2 separate regions of the Homo sapiens genome follow, and region 1 is linked to region 2. A link means that fine-mapping ties the variant in region 2 to the expression of a gene that starts in the linked region. Tissue or cell type: whole blood. Region 2 holds a variant in brackets; the other region holds the start of a gene. All regions are shown on one strand. Distances are between the middles of the regions.

The links. PIP is the estimated chance that this variant, and not a neighbour inherited with it, causes the effect.
Region 1: GPAT4 starts here. The variant in region 2 is fine-mapped to the expression of GPAT4 in whole blood (TOPMed, PIP above 0.99).

What each region holds. Positions count from the first base shown.
Region 1 is chr8:41,575,736-41,581,108 of GRCh38, forward strand. It overlaps GPAT4 (glycerol-3-phosphate acyltransferase 4), which reads left to right and starts at 2,465. Exons shown (of 13, transcript NM_178819.4): 1 at 2,465-2,543. GPAT4-AS1 (GPAT4 and GINS4 antisense RNA 1) reads right to left here and starts at 2,633. Exons shown (of 3, transcript NR_125824.1): 1 at 2,571-2,633. RefSeq lists silencers at 2,192-2,811, 2,832-2,971.
Region 2 is chr8:41,654,479-41,659,835 of GRCh38, forward strand. ANK1 (ankyrin 1) reads right to left here. Exons shown (of 43, transcript NM_000037.4): 43 at 1-1,275. Among named protein-coding and RNA genes, the nearest start is that of MIR486-2, 3.3 kb to the right of the region's middle. RefSeq lists an enhancer at 1,476-2,009. The variant G/C (reference allele first, on the strand shown) is at 2,300.

The sequences.
Region 1 (5,373 bases), 79 kb before region 2:
GCATTTCAAGCATGACTTGCTTGTTTCATCTGCCCATTTACATTCCTTGTACCTAGAAATGAATGTGATAAAAGTTTTGGTGCCTACAGGAACTATATTTACCTAGTTCATGTTGGCTTCCCACTCAGAGGGAAGTTTGATTGCCTTCCTGCACTTGAGAAGTTTAGAGAATGTGCCAGTGAATGTGCACACTCACAAGGTGTGTGTGTGTATCAGTGTTAATACCCAACAATTGAGCCTACTATTTGCTTGGGCAAAGAACACCATTTTCTCTTGAGCCTCTAATATGTGTGAAATATTTTAAGATTTCAATATTATGTACAAAGAACTAGTAGATGGTAAGAATTGTGAGAAAATATAACCATGAGAACACAAAGAGAGTACAGCAGATGAGTGGGCTACTTCCAAGACTGGTTCTGGGGGCAGAAAAGGAGACCAGACGAAGGACTCCAAAGAGCAGTTGAGATCCTGGTGGCCACTTTAAATCCCTATCCCTAGCACTGTGGAGAACACAACACAAAAATGTATGATGTCTGGTTTCTTCTTCTTTTTTTTTTTTTTTTCTGAGATGGAGTCTCCCTCTGTCGCCCAGGCTGGAGTGTAGTGGTGCGATCTCAACTCACTGCAACCTCCGCCTCCTGGGTTCAAGCAAGTCTCCTGCCTCAGCCTCCCGAATAGCTGGGATTACAGGTGCGCACCACCACGCCCGGCTAATTTTTGTATTTTTAGTAGAGACGGAGAGACGGGGTTTCACCATGTTGGTCAGGCTGGTCTCGAATGCCTGACCTCGTGATTCCCCCGCCTCAGCCTCCCAAAGTGCTGGGATTACAGGGGTGAGCCACCGCGCCCGGTGGTTTCTTCTCTTATGGAATTTAATGTCGTTGACGATTAGACGTGGCCATGCATTACTCAATCTTGAATTGGGATCCCCAAAAAAGCTGGGCGAGTAACAAGGGCTCAATGAATGGATAAGTGATTGAGTTAATAAATACGTGATCAGTTCCAAATGGGTAACATTTAGTTATATTTGGTGGAGATAAGTAGTCCAGTGTTTTGGAGCTAAGTGGTTATTCTTTTTTTTTTTTTTTTTTTTGAGTTTGGGTCTCGCTCTGTCACACAGGCTGGAGTATAGTGCCACAATCTCAGTTCACTGCAACATCTGCCTCCTGGGTTCATGCAATTCTCCTGTCTCAGCCTCCCGAGTAGCTGGGATTACAGGTGCGTGCCATCACCCCCGGCTAAATTTTGTATTTTTAGTAGAGACGGGGTTTCACCATGTTGGCCAGGCTGGTCTCAAACTCCTGGCCTTAAGTGATCTGTCCGCCTCTGCCTCCCAAAGTGCTGGGATTACAGGCGTGAGCTACCCGCGCCCCGCTCCCCCCACCATTTTTTTTTAATTTTCAAAATTTTTGTAGAAGTGGGGGTCTCGTTACGTTGCCCCGGCTAGTCTCAAACTCCTGGCCTCAAGCGATCCTCCTGCTTTGGCCTCCCAAAACGCTGGGATTACTGGCGTGAACTACCATACTCTGCCCTTTATTCTTACAGAGATTTTGAGGTCTAAGAATGTGGACTTTAAAGATTTCATTATCAGATTATGCATTTAGCACGGAATGACAATCTGACAGCCGTGTACAGCGTAAACCGGCGGAGAGGGCTTGGCACTAAAGGCAAACTGTCTTTTAAGAACAGGAAAAAGAAAGGTAATATATATTTTAAGGAGGTCCCATTTTAGGGGAGATAATAAGCTTGGGTTAGGCGTCCGAAGTCAGAAGATATAGTAAGAAACACACACGCAAACTCCAGCAGCCACCAGCTAGACTTGAGTAGAGAGAGCAGGTCCAAGTGGAGGTGGAAGTTGGAAAGTTGCATCTGCCAGGCAGGGCGAAAGTGGCCTACACCCACTCCTGGAGCACCCTGCTTGACGAGCAAGGTAGACGAGGCTGAGGGATACTGCTGGTGATGACGGTGGTCGTGGTGATGGTGCTGGTAGCTAACAGATCTTGAGCGTACCAGGCCCTGAGCTGAGTCCTCTAACGGGCAGAATGTCGCTGCATACGGACAGCAGCCTCAAGAGGACAAGGTGATTTAGTGACTCTAGCCTCTTCCCGCGGTGCCAGCCTGATTTCACCCTCTCCGGAACACACAAGCGAACCTCCGGGGAGGGAGCCAGTATCGGGTCCTAACGCAGGGAAGCGCTCCGCTTTCTGAGAGGGACGCGCCAGCGGAGGGACAGCCAGGGCCCGGCCTCTCCTGCTCCTGCCCCGCCCCGCCCCCGGCAGTGCCCCCTAGTCCGCCAGAGGGCGACTCCGCGGGTCGCCCAACCCGCGACCGGTCCACGCGGCACCCGCCTCTCCCTAGGCCCCCGCCCTGCCGGCCCGCGCGCGCCCGACGGGAGCGTGCGGGGCGGTGGGCGCAGGGTCACGTTGGGCGGCGCAGACAAAGGCGGGCGCGCGCACGTCCTGACGCAGCTTGGGCCCGCGGCGGCGGCAAGGGCGGGAGGGAGCGGTCGCCGCGGGATTTGGAGCTGCCTAGCCTCGCGGTCGGTGAGTAGGAGGGAGCTGGCCCCTTACCTCAAAGTCTCCGACCTCCGGGGAGCCGAGAGCGGGACGTGGGAGCCGGGCTTGGGCGGCCGCGCGGGGCCTGCGGTCTGGGACGCCCCGGCGACGCTGCGCCGGCGTCAGGAGGCACCATCGCCGCGCCCCGGGGATCCCCGGCGGGTGGAGCGGGTGCCCCCCGTCCGGGATGGAACGGTCCGCGCCCGCCCCGAACCCCGGCCGCCCGCCTCTCCGCTCGCCTGCTCTCCGAGCCCGGCTCCTCGGAGCCCCTCGCCTCCCCCAAGTCCCAGGTGTGCGCAGCCCTCCCGCCCCGGGAGTCCGGGGATGTGGGTGGCGAGGGCTGCTGGGCGTTGGAGCACCAGGAAGCGCCTTCCCCTGTCATTCCCCTTCCTGTGTTCTCTGGCTGCCGTAAGATGCATGTCTTTACCCTCTCCTTCTCCAAATGCATGCTCCCATTTTTCTTTAGGATTTCTTAACTCCTGAAATCCCTTGCCTTTCCTTTTTTATTTCAGCACCCTCTGAGGCATCCTTCTCCCAGTGGGGCTTGTTTATTTCCTCGCTTTCCATGTCACAGAGGGCTGAAGTTTAGCTGTTCAGAAGTTGCAGAAAATAGCTTATAGGAGACATACGGTGTAGCACGATGGAAATAAGTTCCATCCTCTGCCAAGTATTACCATGGATCTTCTCATGGATAACCTTGAGGTCATTTGAGGAATTTTGTTTTTGGTTCATTTTCCTTAATTTTGGCTGAACTTTGAGGAGCTCTCCTTAGTTTCATGTCTTGTAGATTCTATCTCAATCCAAGGGAAATGGTGTGAAGAGCAGTTATACCATACCAAAGTCTCCAGACAAAATCCTGTAATAATGCCAATCAAATATACTTCTCTCTTTGAAAGAGATGTGCTTTTCTTTTCTTTTTTAACTTTGTATTTTGGAGAATTTCAGACACAGGGAAATAGATGGAATAGGGAACCAGCATGTACTTGTTCTGGCCTCCTCAGCCACTTAACTGTGGCTATTCCTGTGCCATACACACCCCACCCATTTCCCCTCCCGTATGTCTCAGGGAGAACTTGATGCAAGATGAGTCTGTCAAAAGTAGCTTCAGTTCCATAATGAAAACCACCATACCAAGTCATAAGGTGCTTTTTGTTTTGGAACACAGCCTACTCATGAGGTCTTCAGCTAAGAAACACAGTAGAGTTGAAGAAAGAGCACAGCAAAAGGTATCTTAACATGATAGAACAGGTTAAAAGAAAAAGTATGGCCGGGCGTGGTGACTCACGCCGGTAATCCCAGCACTTTGGGAGGCCGAGGCGGGCGGATCACCTAAAGTCAGGAGTTCAAGACCAGCCTGGCCAACATGGTGAAACCCTGCATATACTAAAAATACAAAAATTAGCCGGACGTGGTGGCAAGTACTTGTATTCCCAGCTACTCGGGAGGCTGAGGCCGGAGAATCGCTTGAACCCAGGAGGCAGAGGTTGCAGTGAGCCAAGATTGCGCCGCTGCACTCCAGCCTGGGCGACAGAGCGAGACTCGTGTCAAAAAAAAAAAGAAAAGAAAAAAAGTGTTTCAGATCTGGATGAGAACATTCGGAACGTCCTGTTCAATGTTTTCATTTTTTTCTGAGCCCTTGGAGGTCCAGAGAAGTTCAGTGACTTGTCCAGAGCTGCAGGTCTTAAGAGGCTGAAATCTCGCCTCTGCCTCGAGGCTGCGGTTCCACTGACCCATACTACTTGCCTTCAGGAAAGAGAAATGGTGTAGGAAGGCTGTGGATGAAGACGCTTACATTCATGAAGGATTTGGATAGGCGAACATGAGCTTTTCCACCAAATTTCAGAATTTTAAGAAATGCCTTAAATTATTTCTTAAAAATCAATTTGGGGCAGACGAGAAGTTCTGATAATAGTTTTTAGGGAACATGATAAAATTCTGACCTTAGAAGTGGTATACCAGTTTGAGAAGAAGAACAAGCTATAAACGGTGTAGATAACATTCACGGCTATTTAAGAAAGAGTTACTAAGGGAAACCAGAATGACTTAAGAGTGTTACTCTTCTTTTTCTGAGAGAACAATAGCATCATCTCAGAAAGCCTTTCATGCCATTAATAGGTAAGAATCTGGGCTTCTTGGACCATGGGTTAGACTTTCTTACAAAACCATAATATGCATTTCCTAGCAAAATTTATGCTATTACATTTCCTTATCTCAACAAAGACTGGTAAATTCAGTACTTATTCCTCAATTTTCCTACCCTTAAAATGGGGATATTCTGCCTCTCCAAGGAATGCTGGGAACAAGCAAGTCCTCATGTTAGGGGTCTTTGAGTTTTCATGGAAGTTTAGGTTATTTATATGATGACATAGTTGTCAACTTACTTTCAGGATGGACTTTTCTTTTGTGAGTTTGTGACCTAAATACAATAGTTGTTATGCATGTCCAGTTTATGGAAGTACCACTGCAATAACAGCATTTGAGTGTCATGGTAAATCATTACCCCTAAAGATAGAGGAGGGAGGAGGAGGCAACTGTTGTGTGTCTATTTTGTGTTTGGTGTGAGGAGTGTTGTGGCTAGGCTCTTCAGAGGCTAGCCTAACTTGCTAAGTGGTTTCTGCTAAAGAAAAACCCACTTTTCTTGTGTGTGCTTGTCACCACAAGTTAGCTTTTATTAAAAACAAAACAAAACTCTCTAAGCTATCTGGAGATGATTTGGCCCTGGTTAAACATGAACTGTACTGCAGAATTGTTTGTTTGGGTAAAGTAGAACCTCATTATGACGTGTCTTTTACTTCCTACTGTGTCATTGTGCTCATGG
Region 2 (5,357 bases):
CCAGGGTCCCCAGCCTGCAGGCTGCCTGGACTTAGAGCACCAAGTTCACTCTGGGAGACCCTGGGTGGTCCTGACTTCTAAGACCTGGCAGATACATTCACTAGCCCTACTCCTTTCCTTCCTCTTTCACTGAAAGACAGGCCACAGCTCCTTCTCCTGCAGCCGCAGAAGTCCTCAGGAGCTGCGCTGTCAGGCTCTGTACGTACTGCTAAATGTTTCTATTGGTTTGCATAGTATTTATTGTTTTTCATATACACAAGGCTGATTACTGTACAGTTTACACTTTGAACACGGACTATGATATAGTGCTTGAAGACATAGAAAACCTCTTCTCTATGGACATGCTGGTGCAATCCTGGGTCAGCCACCGGCCTGTCCCCCAACTGAGAGAGGAGACCCTTTCAGATGGGGTCCTGGCTCCCTTTGAGTCCTACAGGTAAGCCTGGGGGTCCTCGCCTCAGATTCTTAAGTCCCTAACACAAGGAACCCCGAATGCACTCTTCAAGGTAATGATTTTCCATTGGAAGATGATTCGTATTGAAATTGGCAGAGAGAGAGACAACATAAAAAATTCCAATTTATCCACAGCAGAGTCTATACAGCTTCAGAAGTCACAGTAAAATCTGTGTGTAGATTCAGTGGAGGCGAGTGGTGTGTGTGTGTGTGTGTGTGTGTCCTGAATGTCATGTAGAGCGATCTGGGAGGAGCGTCACCAGGGAGTCGAGGGGGTGTCACAAGTGGAATGGAGGTATGTGGGTTGGGGAGGGTGGGCAGATGAGGACATGGCTTAAGATTAAGGTGTTAAACTGATTTCATGCCTAGTTTTCTTTTTTTTTTTTTTCTTTCCAGGAAGCCCACATGGATTTCTGACAGATGAGGTTGGGAAAAAGTACCCTGTACGAAGTCAAAACAATTTAAAAAAAAAACCCCAAAACCAAAACCCATCCCCAGCCACAAAAAGCCCTCATTCACTTTTGCGTTCGCAGGCTCTCCTGCGCTTGTTTTCTATCCCTCTCTCTCCCCGCTTCTTGCTGCTTTTGTGTCCTGGTTCCGACAGATCAGCTGTCATTGCAAGAGGCAGGATTGAAGCCTGGAGGTCATGCGTCTACAGTCAGTCATTCATGCCAAGAGGGGACTAGCAGGAGTCCCTTACAGAGGTCATGCCGTCAGCCCAGAGGAATGTGTGCACCGCTGCGGTGGCCCTCAGGTCCAGCTCTCCTCCTGTGTGCATGGCAGAGTGTGTGGGGTTCAGGGGTTGGGTGTCGAGGTGTGATCCTGGGAGACACAAAGAGAGAAGGAGTCACTTAGAATGCAAAAGTGCAACGTCCAGCAAAAACCCCACACACAGAGTTTTGTGCTGGCAGCTCAGGCCGAATCTGACTCAGGAAAAGCAGTCTCCCCAGGCAGGGCGATGTGCTGAGGGTGCTGCACTTGCAGCCCGACTTCCTGAGATGCCGCCCTCCTTCTCTTGCTCCCTATGCAGAGGCTGTTCCTCAGAGCCGCCACCCAGGCCTCATGAATTCCTTCTGAGTGTGCAAGTGTTCCAGGATGCCTCTCTGTATGGGCCAAGGAGAGCACTGTGCTCTGTGCCCTTGGAGAGGGGCAGAGGCCCCCGTGCCTACGTGGTCACCTGGGGAGACATCCCCCAGCAGATCCTTGTACTTAGGAAGAGCCATTTTTCTTGAGCCAGGGCTTGTGCCAAGAAGGGGCTAGGTGAGGCTAGGTGAGGCCTTCACTTTCTCAGTTCAGCTCTGCCAACATGCACTGATGTCCGCCATGCGCCAGCCTTGGGAACCCAGGGATGGAGCGGATGTGCTCCCTGGCCTTGGGAGCTCATGCCTCAAGGGTGACAGCTCCCCTTCAGCTCTGGCCCACAGCACTTCCTGACCGCTGCCTCTGGCTGCTCTCCCCATGCCCCTCAGATGGACAGAGATCTCTGAAAAGCAGATGCATCCTCCTCTCCTCCTCCTGTATTGAGTCTTAGGCTGGAAAAGAGCAGCTTTGCTGGAGGAACTAAGCCCACATTCTTCAGCCTGGGATTCGCAGTGAGAAACCTCTCCTGCCCCCATGGGGCCTCCAGCCTCCAACCTGGGGTGAAAACTCCATGTTTTCAAGACCAGCCACTCATGTTCTATCTGCAGGGGCCCTGGGACCACTGGGGAAAGGAGGATGCTTCAATAAGGAGGAGGTGACAATCTCTTGGGCAGGGTGGGAAGTGACACAGGGAGGCAGGAGCTCATTCGGAGGTGGAGCCATCCCCAGACATAGAGCTGTTTTGGGTCCTCCAGGTGAAGGGGTT[G/C]GGGAGGAGTGTTGGAAGGGAGTAGGGAGAACTCAGCTCTTGGGTGGTTCCCCAGGGATGGGAGGGTGGTGCCAGGTTCCTTGCCAGGGGCTGCTGTAGAACTGTAAAGCCAGGAACTGCTGCTGCAGTGGGTGGACAGTGCTGCCACCGTAGAGGGAAGATGCTTTCATCACTGCTGGGCCATCACATCGGCCAAGTCTGACTGTCTCCTCTAAGCCTCTGAACACGCTCTACCCTCCTGTTCTCTGCCTTCGGTCACGCTTCTGTCAAGGCTGCCTTCCATTCTCTTTTCTGCAGAGGTTCTGCCTGCCGCCCTCAACACCTCCACCCCACAAAACCTTCCTGATCCTTCCTGGAGCAGGCCCCTCTCCACTCTGGAAGCTCTCCCTTTTGTATTTTGTAAAAATACAAAATACAAAAAAGAAAAAAGCTGCCTTTTCTGTTCAGGAGATGGCAGAGTCGAGTGGGTAAGAGCATGAACTCTGGAGCCAGACCACCCGGGTTCAAGTCCCATGCTGCCTGACCTCGGTCAAGTGCCTTACCTGCTCTGTGAGTCAGTTTTCTCTGCTGTAAAATGAGGGCAGTAATAGGGCCTACCCATTAGAGAGGTGTGATGTTTAAAAAAGCTAAGACACATAGGTGCTTAGCATTGTATGAATGCAAACAATTACTTGGCTCTCTAGAAATGTTACCGTCTCTGTCCATCTGTGCTTTTTGATGTCTGCATATTTCCCTGACTAGATTAGAAACACTGAGGGCAAGAACAGCCTCCTGGTGCTCCCCACGGTGCCTGCCCCAAGAAGTGCTCCTCAAATAAGAGACCATCATGGAATATGCAGCCTGGGAAAGACAGGCTAGGATCTCCCATCTACTTTACCGCCCAGGCACTGAGCAGAAGAGAAAGTTCAGACCTCAGAGATCATGCTGGCATGACTGCCCATTTCATCCCTTGGTAAACTGAGACTCTAGAGGCACAGTGGCAAGAGCAGGGGTGAGATGAGGACCTAGGCCACCTCACTCTGCCCAGGACTCCTGCATTGTTCTGGCCTCTTCTCCTGGGTCCCCTCACCTTTCAAAAGCTTAGAAAAGAGTCTCTTTCATTCTTTATTTTTATTTCATTTAGAGACAGAGTCTTGCCCTGTTGCCCAGGCTAGCGTGCAGTGGTATAATCATAGCTCACTGCAGCCTTGAACTCCTGGGCTCAAGCGATCCTCCCACCTCAGTTTCCCAAGAAACTGGAACTACAGGTGTATGCCACCATGTCCAGCTAATTTTTAAACTTTTTTTGTAGAGACAGGGTCCTACCACATTGCCCAGGCTCATCTCAAATTATCCTCCTGCCTCAGCCTCCCAAAGTGCTGGGATTACAGGCATGAGTCACTATGCCCGGCCCTAGACAGCCCTTTCACAAACATAAACTCAGCAACCATCATAACCATCCTACAAGGGAAATGCTGGCATTATTGCTAGTTTATGGCTAAGGAACCTGAGGCTTAGGGAAGTCATTTGACTTGCTCCGAGTCACACTACAAACAAGACCTGCAATTGTTTGAGTCCCAGAGCATATATGTTCTTATTTACTCTCTTCACATCAGTGCTCACAGTTACCATTATTATTTCTAAACCTTTTTCTTGAAGTGTAGCACATTCGAAAGGGACATTTTCATCCTCCCTTGAGGAGACTGAAGCTTAGGGCGGTTAAATGACTTAAGGCCATACAACCTGGAAGCAGGAGGAGGCCTTGATTCTAGACTCACAAGCTCCAGCTTTCACTCTCTGAAACAAATACAGCCATTTGCCATAGCTCTGTTCTATAAATTAGTCGCTGTTTGAGGCTGTGCACAGTGGCTCATGCCTGTAATCCCAGCACTTTGGGAGGCTGAGGAGGGCGGGTTGCTTGAGGTGAGGAGCTCGAGACGAGCCTGACCAACATGGTGAAACCCCGTCTCTACTAAAAATACAAAAATTAGCCAAGGGTGGTGGCACATGCCTGTAATCCCAGCTACTCAGGAGGCTGAGGCAGGAAGATCACTTGAACCCGGGAGATGGAGGTTGCAGTGAGCCGAGATAGTGCCACTGCACTCCAGCCTGGGCGACAGAGCGAGACTCCCTCTCAAAATATAAATAAATAAATAAATAAATAAATAAATAAATAAATAGTCGCTGTGAACACGGAATTAGCAAATACTGAACCACTGCTCCTAAGGGAAATACAAGGTTAGGCTCCCATGAGCCTCTGGCCACAATATTTTGGTCAACTGATGAATACATAACTTTGTGTTAAATGCGTTTCTGTTTCAAGACGCCTTATGTAATATATAGGGTTGACTCATTAACACTGACTTCACCACCACAAGCACTCTAACTCATCCCTGAGCAGAGCTTATCTGATGTCCATTCCCTCCTTAAGGAACATCCCAGCCTTCTTGCACTTCGCACCAGACAGCACTTCAGCACTGCCCTCAGGGGCCATTCTAAACAATGAAACCAAAAATGTGAAAAATGTGGCACTACACAAGCTGCAAGGAGGACACTTATTTATAGTATGAGGCACAGAGGCAGAGTGTGGCATTGTTCATCCTCAGCTGGGATTGCACGGGTTGGGCGACTCAAACTTTCTGCCCTTGTGTGTGTGTCCATGAATGAGCCAAAGCACGGTGAGTGCCAGCTTTGGGGCTACAGATAAATGTTAGCGAGTGGACGAATTCGCAAATGCAGAATCCGTGAATGATGAGGATCGACTGTACATGCTTGTCGGGGATGCGGATAGTAAATTAGGAAGCCTTTGGGCCCTCAACCGTCTTCTCTGTAGCCTTTGCCCTGGTTGGGAGGGTAGGGCATTTAATGCTGTCCCCTAACCCTCTGGGACTTTGGCAGGAGCTTTTCTCCGCCTCTCCCTCACCACTGCTCTCGCCCCACCGCCCCACCCCCCTGCCACCCTCACACTTGTCCCTGTGCCTGTCACTGACAGAGGGCCAAGTGCTGTCCCAGAGCCAGGCTGCTCCGTGTTTCTGACACCCATGCTAGTGTGGTCCGGTCCTTAATCACCTGAGGTTGG